Linked DNA regions of Homo sapiens. The protein of the gene in region 3 interacts with the protein of the main gene of each other region in a pairwise test. Each region holds a gene or a part of one and is shown on either strand. Other genes may lie near its edges.

Region 1 (2,631 bases), on a different chromosome or scaffold from region 3:
AACAAAAGATATGAAGAAGGTAGGTTAGTCTTAAAGATGTTTAGGTTAGACACTAACCACTGCTCAGCAACTCCCTTCAATTTGAGCTGAAGCTTAGAATCCCATTGGGATGATTCATCTATCAATGCTTACTGAGTGGCTATTCTATGTAAAGCATGGTTTAAAGTGCAGGCAAACAGAAGATTCAGTCCTTGCCTTCATGTCTACAGAGCAAAACGTTAAGAAAATCAATATTTACAAATATGGGATAAATGTCTCACATACAGTGATGCTCAGTAAATTCACTGATTGGACAAATCAATATTGTAATAAAAGTGTATACAAAAACCAGGAGACCTTCCCAAAGCATATTTATCCCTTTGCCATAACACAAATGAGCCTGAAAGTTTACTATTTTGTATACCTGTACATAGAAACCACCCTTAGAAGAATAAACAACTAGTAAATGCCATAACAGATAGTAGCTACCAAGATTATACCACAAAAAGGAGAGCGAGAACGACAGTCAGAAAAAAGATTATTACTCATTTTACGTAAAAGAGTATTTTAATTCTTGTCCTTGGAAGCCATAAAGATTATACATGACTTGGAAATGAGACTGTACCAAATGATGGCCAAAGAAGAATCATCCTTTCTACTCCTTCTCTTTCGTCTGGTCACTCAGAAATATAATATTATCTGTAAAAAAGCCAAAATGTAAATATTAATTTCAGAACTCTTTCTCCATCTCATTCAATAATTCTCCTCTAATACATATAACTTTAGTGCTGTTCATTAAAAGGATTTTAGCCATCTTTTCAAAATATTAAATCACTTGCTATGCTCACGAGAGGTATATATACAGTTGGCATAAGTGGAGCTACAAGTTAGGCACTGGCTGCTTTTCGAACAATTCAGATCTTGTTAGAAGAGGTGGGATATTTCTTGTCTTCCAGTCTTCTCAGAAACAATTTCCTGCAAAAGAACTGGTCACAAAATTGGATGCTTGCAATGGTCAGGCAGATTCCACGACACTAGGCAGCACATCCTCAGAGAAAAGGACAAAAGTGTATCACATTCTACACTCTGGGGGTCTAGAGGAAAGAGTAAGAGTCCATATGTGGCCCTGTTAGCAATGACAGGATTTACTTACGTTTTTAACTTTAAAAATTCAAATAGAAGAAATTTTATTTTTAAATTACAATACAGAATAACTTTTTGTTTTTCCTTTGGAGATGGAGTCTCTGTCACCCAGGCTGGAGTGAAGTGGTGCAATCTCAGCTTACTGCAACCTCTGCCTCCTGGGTTCAAGCGATTCTCCTGCCTCAGCCTCTCCAGTAGCTGGGATTATAGGTGTGCACCACCATGCCTGGCTAACTTTTGTATTTTTAATAGAGACAGGGTTTCACCATGTTGGCCAGGCTGGTCTTGAACTCCTGACCTCAAGTGATCTGCCCGCCTTGGCCTCCCAAAGTGCTGGGATTACAGGCATGAGCACCGCACCTGGCCCAGAATAATTTTAATATACCAATTCTTGGGAACATTTTATGAATCAACATCACAGAGTTAGCATTTTTATCCAAAAATATCAGACGTTGCTCTTAAAATGCTGTTCCAGAGGGAGTTAGCTAAAAATAAACAAAAGAACAGAGGCAAGTAGTAGTCATCCTTCAGTATCCATTGGGGGACTGGTTCCAGGACCCCTATAGATACCAAAATCCACAATGCTCAAGTCCCTGATATAAAATGGTATAGTAATCACATATAACCTATGTACTTCCTCTTATATACTTTAAATCATCTTTAGATTACTTACAATATCTAATACAAGGTAAATGCTATGTTAACAGCTGTTACACTGTATTGTTTCACTTGTATTTTTGTTGTTGTTGTATTATTTTTATTGGTTTCTTTTTTTCACATATATTCAATCTGTGCTTGGTTGAATCCACAGATGCAGAAACAAGGGACATGGAGGAATGACTGCATTTCCTTTATAATTCCAAAAGATTCTTGTAACTATAAAATTATCCACCAAGGACTGAATATTTGTTCATGACCATAGTCTTCCAAAAACTAGAATGTTTTGGTCCAGAACGGTTACTTCAGAACAAACTACTCGAATTAATATCACTGTGGAAAAAGCCAAGAGTGCCATCCACTGGTGGTGGTTTTTTAGTTACAGATAGGATCCCTAGGAGAAAAAAAAATCACCAATAAAACAGATCAACCAATAAACTCTATTTTCTTCAATTCAAATGTCACTGAAGAGCTCTTCAATTTTACCATTAGACATAAACCTAAAGTAAACTGACTGTGCTAGTGGAACCTAGTGACAAGGAAAAAAAACAAAACAGCATATCATCTGAAATGCTTCCGTTTGGCTTATTAGTAACAACTCAATAATCCGAACAATCTAAAGTTTGCCCACACTTGTGGTTTATATTGGGACCCACAGGAGGGTAGGAAAATACCTACACTGCTTTTCAAGGTTAATACACTTTCAAAGAAACTTAGCAGTAAGAAACCATGTGAGCATTCTATACAAATTATAAATTATTAATAAGGTATGGTGGTTAAGACATGAACTCTGGAGCAAAGGAAAGAAGAAAGATAAAAGGCAAATCTAAGAGACTTAAGGTAGAAATCATG
Region 2 (7,000 bases), on a different chromosome or scaffold from region 3:
ACATTACTTACAATGTACACTACTGGAATAACTGGTTTACTAAGATCTCAGAATTCACCACTACATAATTCATCCCTATAACAAAAAAATACTGGTACCTCAAAAGCTACTGAAATAAAAATTAATTTTCAAATTTTAAAGAAGACTTTTTCCTCATGATATTGATTGATTGATTGAGACAGAGTCTTGCTCTGTTGCTCAGGCTGGAGTGCAGTGGTGCGATCTTGGCTCACTGCAACCTCCACCTCCCGGGTTCAAGCGATTCTCCTGCCTCAGCCTCCTGAGTAGCTGGGATTACAGGTGCCTGCCACCACACCCGGCTAATTTTTGTATTTTTAGTAGAGACGGGGCTTCACCATGTTGGCCAGGCTGGTCTCGAACTCCTGACCTCAAGTGATCCGCCTGCCTCGGCTTCCCAAAGTCCTGGGATTACAAGCATGAGCCACTGTGCCCGGCCAATACATGATTTTTAATTAAAAAGGACAAAGCAGGCTGGGCACAGTGGCTCATGCCTACAATCCCAGCATCTTGGGAGGCCAAGGTAGGAGGATCACTTGAGACCAGGAGTTTGAGATTAACCTGGGCGATACAGTGAGACCCTGTCTCTACCAAAAAAACAAAACAAAGAAAACAACCAAAATTAGCCAGGTGTGGTGGCACACACCTATAGTTCCAGCTACTCAGGAGGCTAAGGCTGGAGGATCGGTTGAACCCAGAAGGTTGAGGGTGCAGTGACCCGTGATCACGCCACTGCACTCCAGTCTGGGTGACACAGCAAGTCTTAAAAAAAAAAAAAAAAAAGTCAAAGCAGAAAAGGTTATCTTCCTACAAGAATCACAGAAAGGAGGAGGAACACAAACTGAACTTATCTTAGCCAGTCAGCAATCCAAGGAGGTCAGGGAAAGACAGTTTTCCTTTGAGACCATCCCTAACGTGACTGTCTTGAAGTCACACTTTGGTGACTCCAAGGTATAAGAAAAATAAGCAACTCTTGGCTGAGGGCCTGTGTCTACCACGCCTAACCTCACTGCGATCTCACAAAGGCAGATGTTACCATCCTCACTGTAGAAATGAGAAGTGAACTGCCGGGCGCGGTGGCTCACGCCTGTAATCCCAGCACTTTGGGAGGCTGAGGTGGGTGGATCACAAGGTCAGGAGTTGGAGACCAGCCTGGTGAAACCCTGTCTCTACTAAAAATACAAAAATTAGCTGGGCGTGGTGGCAGACACCTGTAATCCCAGCTACTTGGGAGGCTGAGGCAGAGAACTGCTTGAACCCGGGAGGCGGAGATTGCAGTGAGCCGAGATCATGCCACTGTACTCTAGCCTGCGTGACAGAGGGAGACGCTGTCTCAAAAAAAAAAAAAAAAAAAAAAAAAAGAAATGAGAAGCAAACTATAAATTGTCTGCCACTCAGGGAGGGCAGTAAAGCCGTCAGGCCCTTGGCAGGAAGTGATGGGTGTGGGAAGGACTCTGCACATCTCTTTCTGTGCTCTCCTCCTGGCCCTGGCCCCTTCCTGGCCGTCTCAGAGTAATGCCGTGCCCATAGCAATTCACATCCATCTCCCCCTCTTCCCTTCAGACCTTGCTCAGGCCCTGAGGACTGGCACTGCTTCAAGCCTAAAATGAGTCAAGTTTTTGGGTGGGATGGGTGTTTTCAGAGCTCTGGGATTCTCCTTCCCCCAGCTTTGAACCCAGAGATGTCTGGTGACGGCCTCCGAGAATCACAGTGCTAGAAGGCAGGGTGAGCACATCACCATGCAGGCCAGCCACGCTCTCCGGCCATGGGCGTGGCTGGGCCCAACTCACCTGGTTGGCCTGCCCAGGCCCATGGGCTGCCTCTAGGGCCTTGTACAACCCCTCCGACATCAGCACCAAGAAGCCCGTCACCCCATCCAGCGGCTGTGCCCCATGGATTTCTGGCTCTGCGATGATTGGTTTGGACTTGGCAGCGCTATGGGGAGAGAGTGGAAGGAAGAGCTTTGCTTGGAACAGCCCGCAGGTGGATGCTGATTCTGCTGAGGGGAGGAATCTATGCCCAGAATGTAAAATAAAACACACAACCTGACAAGAGGAAAAGAAAAGAGAGAAAGAGAAGGTCAGAAAAATAGACCCATCGTCTTACAGCAGCTGCTAAAATAAAGCTTGGAAGGCCATAAAAACTGGCAGGCAGCTGAGGTCAGGATGGCAAAGGTTGAATGCCCGATTCTGGCCTGTTCCATACGTCCTGTTCACAGGGTCCGGTGGTGGCAGGGCAGGGTGTGGGACAGCAAGAGGGAGGGATTATCCCTGGGAGCCCAAGCCTCTTGCTATTATTTGGGCTTTTCCAAAACAGATGGCTGAGACCCCAGATACTCTCCATGTGTACAGGGATCCTTTAGTGACTGGGGTCAGAGTCATTACATGCCAACACATGTGTGTGCACATGGAGGTAAGTACATGAGGAGGTGCTGGCAACACCATCCAGAAGAGCGGAGTCTAAGAACTTCCTGAGGGTCCGTCAGCCAGGGCTGGGCCCTGGGAGCGGTTATTACACAGAATGACGCCATCCTAACTGCAGGTGAGCAGAATGAAGAGATGAGCACCTTTAATGATAGCAGTGAGGGGTGTGTAAACATATCTCCAAACTCATCAAGTTGTATGCATGAAATAGGCACAGCTTTGCATATGCCAATTACACCTTAGGGTTTAAAAAAAAAGAAAAGAAGGAGGAGCAGGACACACCAGCACCTGGGAGGGGCAGGACACACCAGCACCTGGGAGGGGCAGGACACACCAGCACCTGGGAGGGGCAGGACACACCAGCACCTGGGTGTTCCGAAAAGGATGCAGGCTCCTTGGCCCCCAGGACAAACACACACACACACACACACACACACACACACACACACACACACAGAGAGAGACACCCCAGCACCTGGGTGTTCCGAAAAGGATGCAGGCTCCTTGGCCCCCAGGACAAACACACACACACACACACACACACACACACACACACACACACAGAGACACCGTGTGTGTATATGTGCATGTGGCCAGATTTTGGAACAGGATACACAAGAAACTAGCAGCCTCTGGGGAGGCAGCGAGTCCTAGAGTGTGGTGTAGGAAGACTTCCTTTCCCTGTATAGACCCCAGCACTGTCTGAAGTGTTTTAAACTATGGATGTCCTTTCCAATAAAGGAAACAGGACCCCACAAATTAGGGACAAATATTCGACACTCAGTTGCCTAGATCGCGTGAGGGCAAGGAGTTCTAACATGCACTTTCTAGGCCATGAGGCCTCTGTTGATGGGAACTCTGGCTTTGGGAACAGCCTTGGCCATGACATTAAATGCCATGATTGGCATCAGGCAAGTGGACGCGCCTATCTCCCCAACCAACACTTCACATACAGGTTACCTGACGGTTAAGGACACATATTCCAAATTCAGGCTGCCTGTGTTCAAGCCCCATGACCAGGGTGGGCTGCCTGATGTCTCCATGCCTCAGTTTCCTCTTATGAAAATGCCTCTGGGGTGATGGCAGTGACTGCCTCAGGGGGCCTGAGTAGGGAATGCATAAAAGAAGGTACATCCAGAGCTCTGCACGGGCTTGGCCGTGTGATGATGACTGCCCATTCTGCTGCCATGAGCGCTGGGGTGATGTCCAGAGGAGGTGTCCTCAGAGGGAAATACACAATTCATCTCACACCTCTGCTGCAGCCATGGGCAGCACCGACCAACAGGCCTGGTCTGTCCATCCCATGCCAACTCTGGCTTCGCCTGCCTCCCTTGTGGCACTAGTTGCTGCCCTCAGCTTTGGCCCAGCTCAACTCCACCCCTTGTTTCTACAGTACCCAACTCCTGGCCTGCTGGGCCTAACCTGCCCCAAACCAACCTCTCTGGGAGGAAGAAAGAGTTTGCCTGGGCTCTGAACTACTTTGACTGCACATGTGTCACTGGGGCCTACAGTCTGCGTCTGCCCCAGGCCTTCTGGACCTTTTTTTTTTTTTGAGACAGGGTCTTGCTCTGTTGCCCAGGCTGGAGTGCAGTGGCATGATCACGGCTCACTGCAGCCTCGACCTCCCAGCACAATCAATCCTCCCATCTTGGCCTCCCTAGGACCTTCTGTTCTTTCAAGCACAGGGGACAGCTGGGCTGGCACCTACCTGAGAAGGTCAATGTCCGTGTAGCCATATTTAACCTTGTAATCCCCGATCCGCCGGGTGCTCTCCTGCCCACAGATGATCCCCACCTGCTTGATCTTTCCAGCATCCAAGCCTACGGAGGGAAACAGTGCAACAATCCTGCTTCTTGTTCACAAAGAGGAACAAAAAGAAGGGGACAGAGACACAGTCATGGGAAGAAGGCAATAAGGACCCACTGAATAGGAAATGAAGACAACACCAGGGCACCTGGGAGAGCAGCTGACCCAAAGTCCCTGGTGTCCTCAGTCCCCACGCCCATCACGACACACCTCACTCAGAGCCCGTCCTCCAGGCACCACCTGGCACGGAGCAGCTTGCCTGCCGTCTCCCTGCCCATCCCGTGTGCCCCACATCTGCCTGGAGCTCACTGGGAAGGGAAGGAGCAGCTCAGCAGCAGCTGGGCTCCCTGGACTTCTTTGGCCTCTTTCAGTCTCCACCAATAACAGTAAGTGTCTTCTGTGTGCCAGGCACTCCAGGAAGCATTTCACATGCACTAACTGAATCCTCCTAGCATCCCGAGGTAGGTTACTATTATCCTCATTACACAGCGGGGGATCTGAGGCACAGAAAACTTAAGTTCCAATCACCAACCAGTAAGCGGCAGTGCTGGGAATGAACCCCAGGCAGGCTGGCTGGGGAGCCCAAGATCACAGCCCCTCTACCACACGCCTCTCTACCCCACCACCAAAGGCAGGCGAAGGGTGAGCCCATGGGGATCAGCTTCCGCTCCCACTCTCCCCACTCACCCAGCTGCGAAAGACGGAAGAGCTCATCCTCGTTCTCTGTGGTGTGGTCCACGTTCAGCTGTGTCACCTGCAACCCATCCACTGTCGATTTGCATAAAAGTGCACGGTTTGTACCTGTGGCAGAATGTGAACAGCTAAGCAAAGACTACACACAGAGAGAAATAGGGCATACCGGGAAGGCAGAGAGGGAAAAGGCAGGCATTTCACACATGGAAATACCTGAAATGGGCAAAACAGGCTCAGACCAACGGGGTGAGTCACCAGTTAGGGACAGCTGGTGATACGAAAGAATTGGGTTTAACTTTTTCAGTGTAATCATAGGATTATGATCTTAATAAAACAGACCTCTTCTCTAGAGATACAGACTGAAATATTTACAGATAACATGATACAGTGTCTGGCATTTGCTTCAAAATAGAGAACGTGGGGACAAAGAAGGCTGGCCACAGTTGATAACTGCTGGGATTGGGGATGGGCGCATGAATGTTCATTAAATATCAGTCACTCTATTGTTCTATATTGTGGAAAATTTTCCACTGGAGTATTAAAAAAAGGCAGCATCATCAGAAGGGTCTCTACAGAGTCCTTTCTACTGAAACCTGCACCTGTCTGGTCTTCTCACAAACCCCAATGTCCCTGTCACCTAGCCCCATCTCGCAGCTGTTCATGGGGATACTGGTTGGTTATTCATGGCCAGGTAACCTCTTCCAGAAGCAGCGGCCCCCAAGGCCACCCAGAATGGGATACGACTCGTCCAGAATGAGTTAAGAAGCAGAATAGGGACTAAAGGCCAGGACACCTGTCTCCCATCCCGTCCTTTCTCCCTTCCAGTTGGGACTGAGGCGTCACTGTGGAGAGGGACATACCCAACGGTCTCAGGAGACCCTGGGTTTAAAGTGCGTGAAGTGTCTGGAAAGCAGATTGTCAAATAATGCACCGACCCCTGTGGCTGACCTCTCCCCAGTCCTCCCTGCCCTGGGACAGGAGGGGGCTCACCGACATTGGCGACGTAGAGCTTGTTGTTGAGAAGGACCGCCACAACGGCCATGGCCCCTCCCGAAATTTCCCTCTCTAACGTCTTGAGTCTCTCAAGGATCTTCTGATACTGAGGAGGCAGCTGGTGCTGAGGGACTCCCTACAACCATCAACAGAGGGTCAGGGCAGGACAGAACTCTGGACCATCTTCCTAGCCCTCTCCACTCCCTTTACTCTTTTTTTTTTTTTTGAGATGGAGTCTCGCTGTGTCCCCCAGGCTACAGTGCAGTGGCATGATCTCGGCTCACTACAAGCTCCGCCTCCCAGGTTCACACCATTCTCCTGCTTCAGCCTCGAGAGTAGCTGGGACTACAAGGCGCCCACCACCACGCCCAGCTAATTTTTTGTATTTTTAGTAGAGACGGGGTTTCACCATGTTAGCCAGGATGGTCTTGATCTCCTGACCTTGTGATCCGCCCGCCTCGGCCTCCCAAGGTGCTGGGATTACAGGCGTGAGCCACCATGCCCGGCCTCCCTTTGCTCTTAAGAGCAAAGATCCGAGGGCCCGGGGGACAGACAGACAGATGGTCCATGGCACAGCCAAGATGAAGCCTTCGCTACAGCTCCAGGCTAAGGTTCTTCCAGAAAGCTGGAGATGACCGAACTCACAGCACAGAGGTAAGCGCTGCAGGTGGCAGTAGGCGATGTGAGCAGGTGGTTGACAAGGGCGGGGACCCATTCAGGACGAAGGACTGGGAAAAGCCCTTCCTCATGTCCACCACTGCCCAGACACTGCTGAGCTTTAGCATGCAGCTGCCCACAGCAGAGCAGCGAGGTCCCTCACCTGTGGCCACACACCAGTGTCACCCATCAGGAACTGCTCCCTAACGCCTGTTGCTCTGGCCCAGTAATGTCAAGAAAGTAGATGAGTCCATGCTCCTTGCAAAGCTGGGCCTGGACTTGACTCCCCTGGGTGTCGGCTGGGGAAATTACCTCTGGCAATTGCGACTGGAGGCTTGCCTTCTCAGCCAAGGCGTCGTCAATGGACTCCAGGAAGCTCCTCTCCACCACATCGAAGGCCTAGGGGGACA
Region 3 (7,478 bases):
GCGGGAGCCCGGAGACGCCCGTCGGGCTTCCCAGCCCCACCTGGGACGTCTCTAGGGGCGGGAGGCCAGGAGAGAAGAGGGTGGGAGAGATGAGCTGCAGGGGGATACGGGACCCAGGGACCCGGGATCTTATAACACGCTTTCCACCCGTAGGATTGGGGCCCACAAATGACCAGAAAGGTGGGACTCATTCGCCCCCTTTGCAGATGGACCCATGTTGGCGCCCCTTAGATCTGCAGTGGGGGCACCAGGACCTGCGGTGAGCGCCTCTGCGCCCCAAACGCCAGCAGGTCCGCCCGACCGCATTCCCAGCTGGCTTGCTTTGCACAAATGCTGCGTCAGGGCACGCCCCACACCCACTCCTTCCCAGATCGCGACCCTCACGCCTTCGCAGACAGAAAGTGTCCTAAGCACAGGCAGGCTCAGAGCCCGCCTCCGCCTCGGATTCGCTGTGTGGCCCGGAGCCAGTATCTTGGCCTCTCTGGGTCTCAGTTTGCTCATCTCAGTGAATGGGACACAGACACAGTCGCGCTGCGGGCTAACGCTTTATTTGCCAGCCAAGGCCCCGGGCCCGCCTGGGCTTCTGCTCAGAAGATCCTCACGGAGTCCAGCTGCACGTCCCCGCCCACCTCCACCAGGCGCACGCGCGCCAGCGGCAGGCGGTGGCGGAAGTGGTGGTACTGGGCGTCCCCAACCACGGCCTGCAGGGGAGGGTCGGTGGTGAGGATTCCGGAGGCCCGTGCTGGGTGGCCCTGGGGAAATCACTCATCCCCTCTGGGCCTCAGTTTCCTCACTGGGAAAATGGGGCTATTGTTCATTCTAACTCTTGCGTGAGGATCAAACGAGTTGACTGTGTGGCACAGTAAAAAGCGGCTTTTTTAGTGCTGGTAATGGATATTCTCATTTCAGCGACCATTACCCGCTATTAAAGCGCAGAGGAGGGAGGTGAATTCGCGTAAGCTGTGGGTGGTGGAGGATCTGCCGCCACTCCCACCCGCCAATCCTTGCTAGGACGAGTTCCTGGGCGCTGTTTCCAACCCATCCCTCCCCATGCCTCAAACCCCGGACCTCAGGAAGGAATGAACTGGGAGTAGGGTCTGGGATGGCGAGTCTGGGCCACGCCTTCCCGCTAGGACGCCCACCCCTTGGACACTTGGCTGGTGCTCGCCTCGTCCTGACCCTGCTGTCTCTCTGTCCCTCGGACCCAAGTGGGAGTTGTTTAGGCGAGAGAGAGGGTCGAAGGACACCCTTCTCCGCCTTGGCCACGACTTCCCTACCCCCCTCACCCCGCCCCGAACCTCCCTGCCTTCCACCAATAGCCTGGCTTTGCCCAACCCTCTGCTCCAGGGACCTAAGTCTTGGCGTCCACGCCCCTGTCGCAGAGACGCACCTTGAAGCCGTCGTCTGACGCGATGATGAGCACCTCGAAGGGCTGCCCGCGCTGGAAAGGAACGCCCGGCCCGCGCTCCTCGCGGCCCCAGGAGCCTTGCTCCTTGCTGTTGAAGACCACCTCCGACGTGTCCAGCCGGGGGTTGAAATGCAGGGCGGCATCGGAGCCCTGCTCCTCCCCGCACAGCAGGTTTACATGGAACCTGGAAGAGGGGGATGGTGGCCGTCAGGGCTCAGAAACCACCCAGACCAAGAAATGTTGAGGGTGAGGAATACCGATGTCTACAATTTACTTTGAATGAATAAGTAAATGAAATGTTGGCTGGGTGCAGTGGCTCACCCTGTAATCCCAGCACTCTGGGAGGTGGAGAAGGGAGGATCGCTTGGGCCCGGAAGTTAAAGACCAGCCTGGGCAACATAGCGAGACCCCACCTTACAAAAAAACGAAAGAACAAACAAAACATAAACCGCCCAGACCAAAGTGAAGGTCTTATGGGCTGGCACTCCCCATTCCCAGAGTACCCCCAAATTAACAGGGACCTGAAGACAGGCACACACCGCAGAAGGAGAGGTGGGCGACTAATGACCAGGGAGCTTAGATTCCCAAGGCAGCCAAAATATCATGAGGCCCTTGGCAGAAACCTACCCAGACCAAACTCACTACGCTTAGGGCAGGGTGCCCTCATTTCCAAAGAGCCTGGGAGCTGCCCAGGAGGTCTGGGTGATAGCCAGGGTGCTCCTGATGCTCAGGGAACCCTCAGCTTCTACAGGACAAAGAATAATACCAGGAACCCCAGTATTTCCAGGGTACCTCAGAATCCAGAAGGCCCGAAGTTCCTTAGCCAGGAAGTCAAAGGATGGCTTGGCAAGGACTCCCAGGGTCCAGGGTGTCTCCAGGACTTGGAGTATTTCCAGAGTTCCCTGGGACTCAGACATGGAAGTCATAGGACTATATCTAGGAACCCTGAGATTACCCAGGGACCTCAAATGCTTAGGGAAACTTAGGGACCCCAGCCACAAAGGCACGGGGGCAAATACGAATACATCAGATTTGAGGTCAGAAATGGCCTCGGACTCCTAGCCTGGTGGATACAGGTGGCCTCGGGCCCCTACTTCTGGACTGCAAAAATTGGGAGTCAGCTGATCCTGAGACCTGTACCCTTTACCCCTAGGGCCTGGGGCCTCACCTGCTGGCATTGGGAGGAACCAAGCCGCGAATTCTCAGCACCGTGCCAGGGCGGATGCCCTCGGGCAGTGAGGACTTGTGGGGGACGTTCTGCAAGAGTGGGGTGCAGGGGCCACTGTGAGCCGGTGAGACCGAAGGAGGGAGGCAGAAGGTGGGTCACCCCTCAGAGGAGCCGACCAGGGCTGAGACTGGCAGAAATCAGTGGAAGAGGAAAGGGTGGCGGAGAGGCAGGAAAGAGACCAGAAACAGACAGGGAAACAGATGGGGAGAGCAACAAAGACAAACAGAAAGATCCTCAAAGAGGGCCCCAGAGGAAGCCACAAAGAGGTAGAGGGGACAGTCGGGATGGGGGTTACCCGGAGGCCACAGCCCAGGCCAGTCCGTGGCACACTCACTGCCCACTTGCTCCTTTGAAAGAGGAGCCCCCAGCCCCCTCCCTGCTTGGCCCCGCCCCGGGCCCCTGGAGCACTCACGGACATGGCTGGGACCGGGTTGGGCAGCCGTGGTGGTGGGGCCTGCTGGGGACCTTAAATAAAAGCAGGGCGGGGCTGGCCCTGATGACTCACCCCACCCCTTCCCACCCACCACCCACACCTGGCACGGACCCTGGCCCTGGGGCAAGCCTGGCGAAGTGGGAGTGGCGCCTCTTCTTGGGGGCCCTGATCCCCCCATCACCCAGAGCCCGGGTGCACTGCCCCTCTCCTAGGAGCTGATAATAAGAGCCACCGCCCCTCCACCCCTGTCTTCCCACTGCCTGGCACACAGGAGAGTCTCTCATGCTCATTTTATCCACAGACATGTTGGGTCCTGAGAAGCCAAGCCCAGCGGGAACTCTAGACCCTTCTCTCCAGCTGAGAACCTCCTGCCTAGACTGGAAATGTCTGCGCTGAAATCCCTGCTTCTAAGTCTCCAGTGGAACAGCAGCCACAACAACGACGATAGTGCCAGACAGGGGGACTTCACAGGGTCGGAGGGCGGCCTGGTTGGCTCAGTGCTGCACCCCTGGGTCCTGGAGTGTGCCGGGTTCATGGGAAGTCCTCAGTCAGGAGGGGTGAAAGGAGGGGATCCACTAGGACTACGCTTGTCATTTCCCAGGCCCTTGGGCTGCCCAGGATATGCAGGAAATCACTGATTGGGACCCCACCATTCCAACAGAGAGAAGCATGGGTCACCCCCATTGTACAGAGAAGGAGGCTGAGGCTGGGATGGGAAGTGATTTTCCACAAGCCGGGCAGGACCCATTGCCCCAACCTCTGCCTTTCCTCACCTCTGGGCGTGCCTCTCCTGTGGGTTCTGTCTCTGGGGCTGGCTGTCTGGCTCTGTTTGTCTCTGTCTATAACTGTCTACCGCGTATTCCTGTCCCACTTCTCTCCTTCAAGTCTCTCTTGTTCCTCCTTCCAGGACTGTTACCATCTTCCCACCAATTTTGCAGGTCAGGATGAGGTGGGTTTTAGGGTGGTGGGTGGCCTAGCATTCCATCACCACCTAGATCAAAAGCAGAGCAAGGTGGGGACCCTCCCGCCAGCCCCAATATAGCCCGCTTGGGCCCAAGACTCTAGAAGAGAATCCAGGGTTGGGGAAGTAGACTGGGGGAGGCGGGGGGGGGGGGGGGGGCGGGCAGGACTGAAATCTGTTTCTGAAAGGCAGGGATGGTGTGGGAGCTGAACAGAAACCACTCCTGGCTGGGCATGGTAGCTCACGCCTGTAATCCCAGCACTTTGGGAGGCCAAGGTAGGTGGATCACTTGAGGTCAGGAGTTCAAGACCAGCCTGGCCAACATGGTGAAACCCCTTCTCTATAGAAAATACAAAAAATTGGCCAGGTGTGGTGGTGGACACCTGTAATCCCAGCTACCTGGGAGGCTGAGGCAGGAGAATTGCTTGAGCTGGGGAGGCGGACGTTGTAGTGAGCCGAGATCACACCACTGCACTGCAGCCTGGGCGACAGAGCTAGACTCTGTCTCAAAAAATAAAAATAAAGCCTGTAATCCCAGCACTTTGGGAGGCCGACGCGGGTGGATCACGAGGTCAGGAGATCGAGACCATACTGGCTAACACGGTGAAACCCCGTCTCTACTAAAAATACAAAACAAAATTAGCCGGGCATGGTGGCGGGCACCTGTAGTCCCAGCTACTCGGGAGGCTGAGGCAGGAGAATGGCATGAACCCGGGAGGCAGAGCTTGCAGTGAGCCGAGATCGCGCCACTGCACTCCAGCCTGGGCAACAGAGCAAGACTCCATCTCAAAAATAAATAAACAAACAAACAAATAAATAAATAAAAATAAACCACTCCTAGCAATGCAGCAGCCCTCCTGGACCTTTTCCACTCCCCACCCAACTCCTGCACTCCTGCCCCACCCAGCAGGCTGCTGAGAGGCCTGGGCAGAGGCAGGCTGGCAGTGGAAAGTTTGGGTGGAGACACCAGACCCAGAACCATCCTCCACCCTCTTTGTCCCAGGCCCCCAGCCTCTTGCCCCCTCCCCACACACTCCAAGGCACCAAGGTGGGGGACCAGTTCCTAGGGACGTGAGCTCAGAGAGGGAGGCTTGCAGCTGCATTTCAGTGGGAGCTGCAAGCACCCCCATTCTGCAGAAGACAAAACTGAGGCCTAGACAGGGACAGCTTCTCAGCCAAGGAAGCGGCCAGGCCCTGGGCTCCACAGGGGTGTCTGTGCCAAGGACATGTCATGGGCACGGACAGAGAGGACAGCAGGGTGTCCGGTGATCACACCACCAGCGCAGCTCAGTTAGTTCCCGAGAATGTTCCCTTGAATGGTGAACTCCATCATTCTAACATTATTGACCATTCTAAAGAACACACTCCTCACATTACTGACGCCTCATGCTGTGTACCGTGTTTCCCAGGAACTCAACTTTTTAGTGATCGCTTCACTGTGGCTGGATGTAACTTCACATGCAGCCAACATGCTGCAAGTCCCAACGTGCCTTTGCTGACTGGCCAAAGCTTTCCATTCACTCTATTATTAGCCTGAAGTCCTGACTCCTTTCTGGTAACAGATCTGCATCCTTGATTGCATCCTTGATGGGTTTTTGTTGTTGTTGTTGTTGTTTGTTTGTTTGTTTTTGAGACAGAGTTTTGCTCTGTCACCCAGGCTGGAGTGCAGTGGCACGATCTCGACTCACTGCAACCTCTGCTTCCCAGGTTCAAGTGATTCTCCTGCCTCAGCCTCCTGAGTAGCTGGGATTACAAGCATGTGCCACCACTCATGGCTAATTTTTGTATTTTTAGTAGAGACAGGGTTTCACCATGTTGGCCAGGCTGGTCTTGAACTCCTGCCCTCAAGTGATCCACCCACCTCAGCCTCCCAAAATGCTGGGATTACAGGCATGAGCCACTGCATCCAGCCCTTGATGAGTTCTTATTCAATTGTGTTATCTTTCTCATTAGTTGTGCAATAATTTTTTTTTTTTTTTTTTTTGAGACAGGGTCTGGCTCTCTCTGTGATCATGGCTTACTGCAGCCTTGGCCTCCTGGGCTTGGGAATCCTCCCGCCTCTGGAGTAGCTTGGACTACAGTTGCACGCCACCATGCCCAGCTTTTTTTTTTTTTTTTTTTTTTTTCCTAGAGAGGAGGTCTCACCATGTTGCCCAGGCTGGTCTCAAACTCCTGGGCTCAAGCGATCCTCCCACCTTGGTCTCCTAAAATGTTGTGATTACAGGCCTGGCCACGGTAATATTTGTGTGTCTTTTTTCGGTTTTAAATAACTAATGTGTTTATTTCCCAATTGTTATTTCATTGAGGTATTTTTCCCATTAAATAAAAGGTTCAGATTTTGTTGTTGTTGTTGTTGTTTTGAGACAGGGTCTTGTTCTGTCGCCCAGGCTGGAGTGCAGTGGTATGATCTCAACTTACTGCAACCTCTGCCTCCCAGATTCAAGTGATCCTCCCACCTCATCCTCCTGAGTGGCTGGGACTACAGGAGTGTGCCACCACACCTGCCTAATTTTTGTATTATTTTGTACTGATGGGGTTTCGCCATGTTGTCCAGGCTGTTCTCAAACTCCTGGACTCAAGTGATCCACCTGCTTTGGCCTCCCAAAGTGCTGGGATTATAGGTGTGAGCCCCTGCTCAGGGTTCAGATTTTAATGGAATAGTTCAATGAGTTTTGACACATATAGTCACCTGTGTAACCACCTCCCCAATCAAGTTTCCTGGTGCCCCTAGAAACAGTCACTGCTCCTTCTGCCACATGAAGCCACTGTCACTCCTGAGCAGTTAGTAGCCACAAAGTTTCCTTTGATCCATTGTGGTGGCATGTGCCTGTAGTCCCAGCTACTCGGGAGGCTAGGGCAGGAGGATCACCTGAGCCCTGGAGGTGGAGGCTACAGTGACCCAAGATCACACCACTGCACTCCAGCCTGGGTAACAAGGCGGGCGGATCACCTGAGGTCAGGAGTTTGAGACCAGCCTGGCCAATGCGACAGCGTGGCGCCTGCCTGTAGTCCCAGCTACTGGGGAGGATGAGGCAAGAGAATCACTTGAACCTGGGAGGCGGAGGCTGCAGTGAGTTAAGATCGCACCTCTGCACTCAAGACTGGGTGACAGAGCGAGACTCGGTCTCAAAAAAGAAAAAAAAGGCCAGGCGCGGTGGCTTACACCTGTAATCCCAGCACTTTGGGAGGCCGAGGCGGGCGGATCACGAGGTCAGGAGATCGAGACCATCCTGGCTAATACGGTGAAACCCCGTCTCTACTAAAAATACAAAAAATTAGCCAGGCGTGGTGGCGGGCACCTGTAGTCCCAGCTACTCAGGAGGCTGAGGCAGGAGAATGGCATGAACCTGGGAGGTGGAGCTTGCAGTGAGCCAAGATCGCGCCACTGCACTCCAGCCTGGGCAACAGAGCAAGACTCCAAGATTCCGTCTCAAAAAAAGAAAAGAAA

What was found.
Region 1: the proteins of LGALS7B (region 3) and SSBP1 interact in binary tests that used the Homo sapiens proteins (3 or more experiments, as listed by UniProt).
Region 2: the proteins of LGALS7B (region 3) and TAB1 interact in binary tests that used the Homo sapiens proteins (3 or more experiments, as listed by UniProt).

What each region holds. Positions count from the first base shown.
Region 1 is NC_000007.14:141,748,358-141,750,988, reverse strand, and holds the end of SSBP1 (single-stranded DNA-binding protein, mitochondrial precursor), read right to left. Parts: intron 679-2,631; coding exon 635-678; 3' UTR 501-634; downstream 1-500.
Region 2 is NC_000022.11:39,416,780-39,423,779, reverse strand, and holds part of TAB1 (TGF-beta-activated kinase 1 and MAP3K7-binding protein 1), read right to left. Parts: intron 6,990-7,000; coding exon 6,903-6,989; intron 6,070-6,902; coding exon 5,931-6,069; intron 5,049-5,930; coding exon 4,935-5,048; intron 4,262-4,934; coding exon 4,150-4,261; intron 1,954-4,149; coding exon 1,809-1,953; intron 1-1,808. UniProt on the Homo sapiens protein: Key adapter protein that plays an essential role in JNK and NF-kappa-B activation and proinflammatory cytokines production in response to stimulation with TLRs and cytokines.
Region 3 is NC_000019.10:38,784,803-38,792,280, reverse strand, and holds LGALS7B (galectin-7), read right to left. Parts: upstream 3,082-7,478; 5' UTR 3,055-3,081; coding exon 3,049-3,054; intron 2,666-3,048; coding exon 2,577-2,665; intron 1,593-2,576; coding exon 1,391-1,592; intron 702-1,390; coding exon 588-701; 3' UTR 527-587; downstream 1-526. UniProt on the Homo sapiens protein: Could be involved in cell-cell and/or cell-matrix interactions necessary for normal growth control. Pro-apoptotic protein that functions intracellularly upstream of JNK activation and cytochrome c release.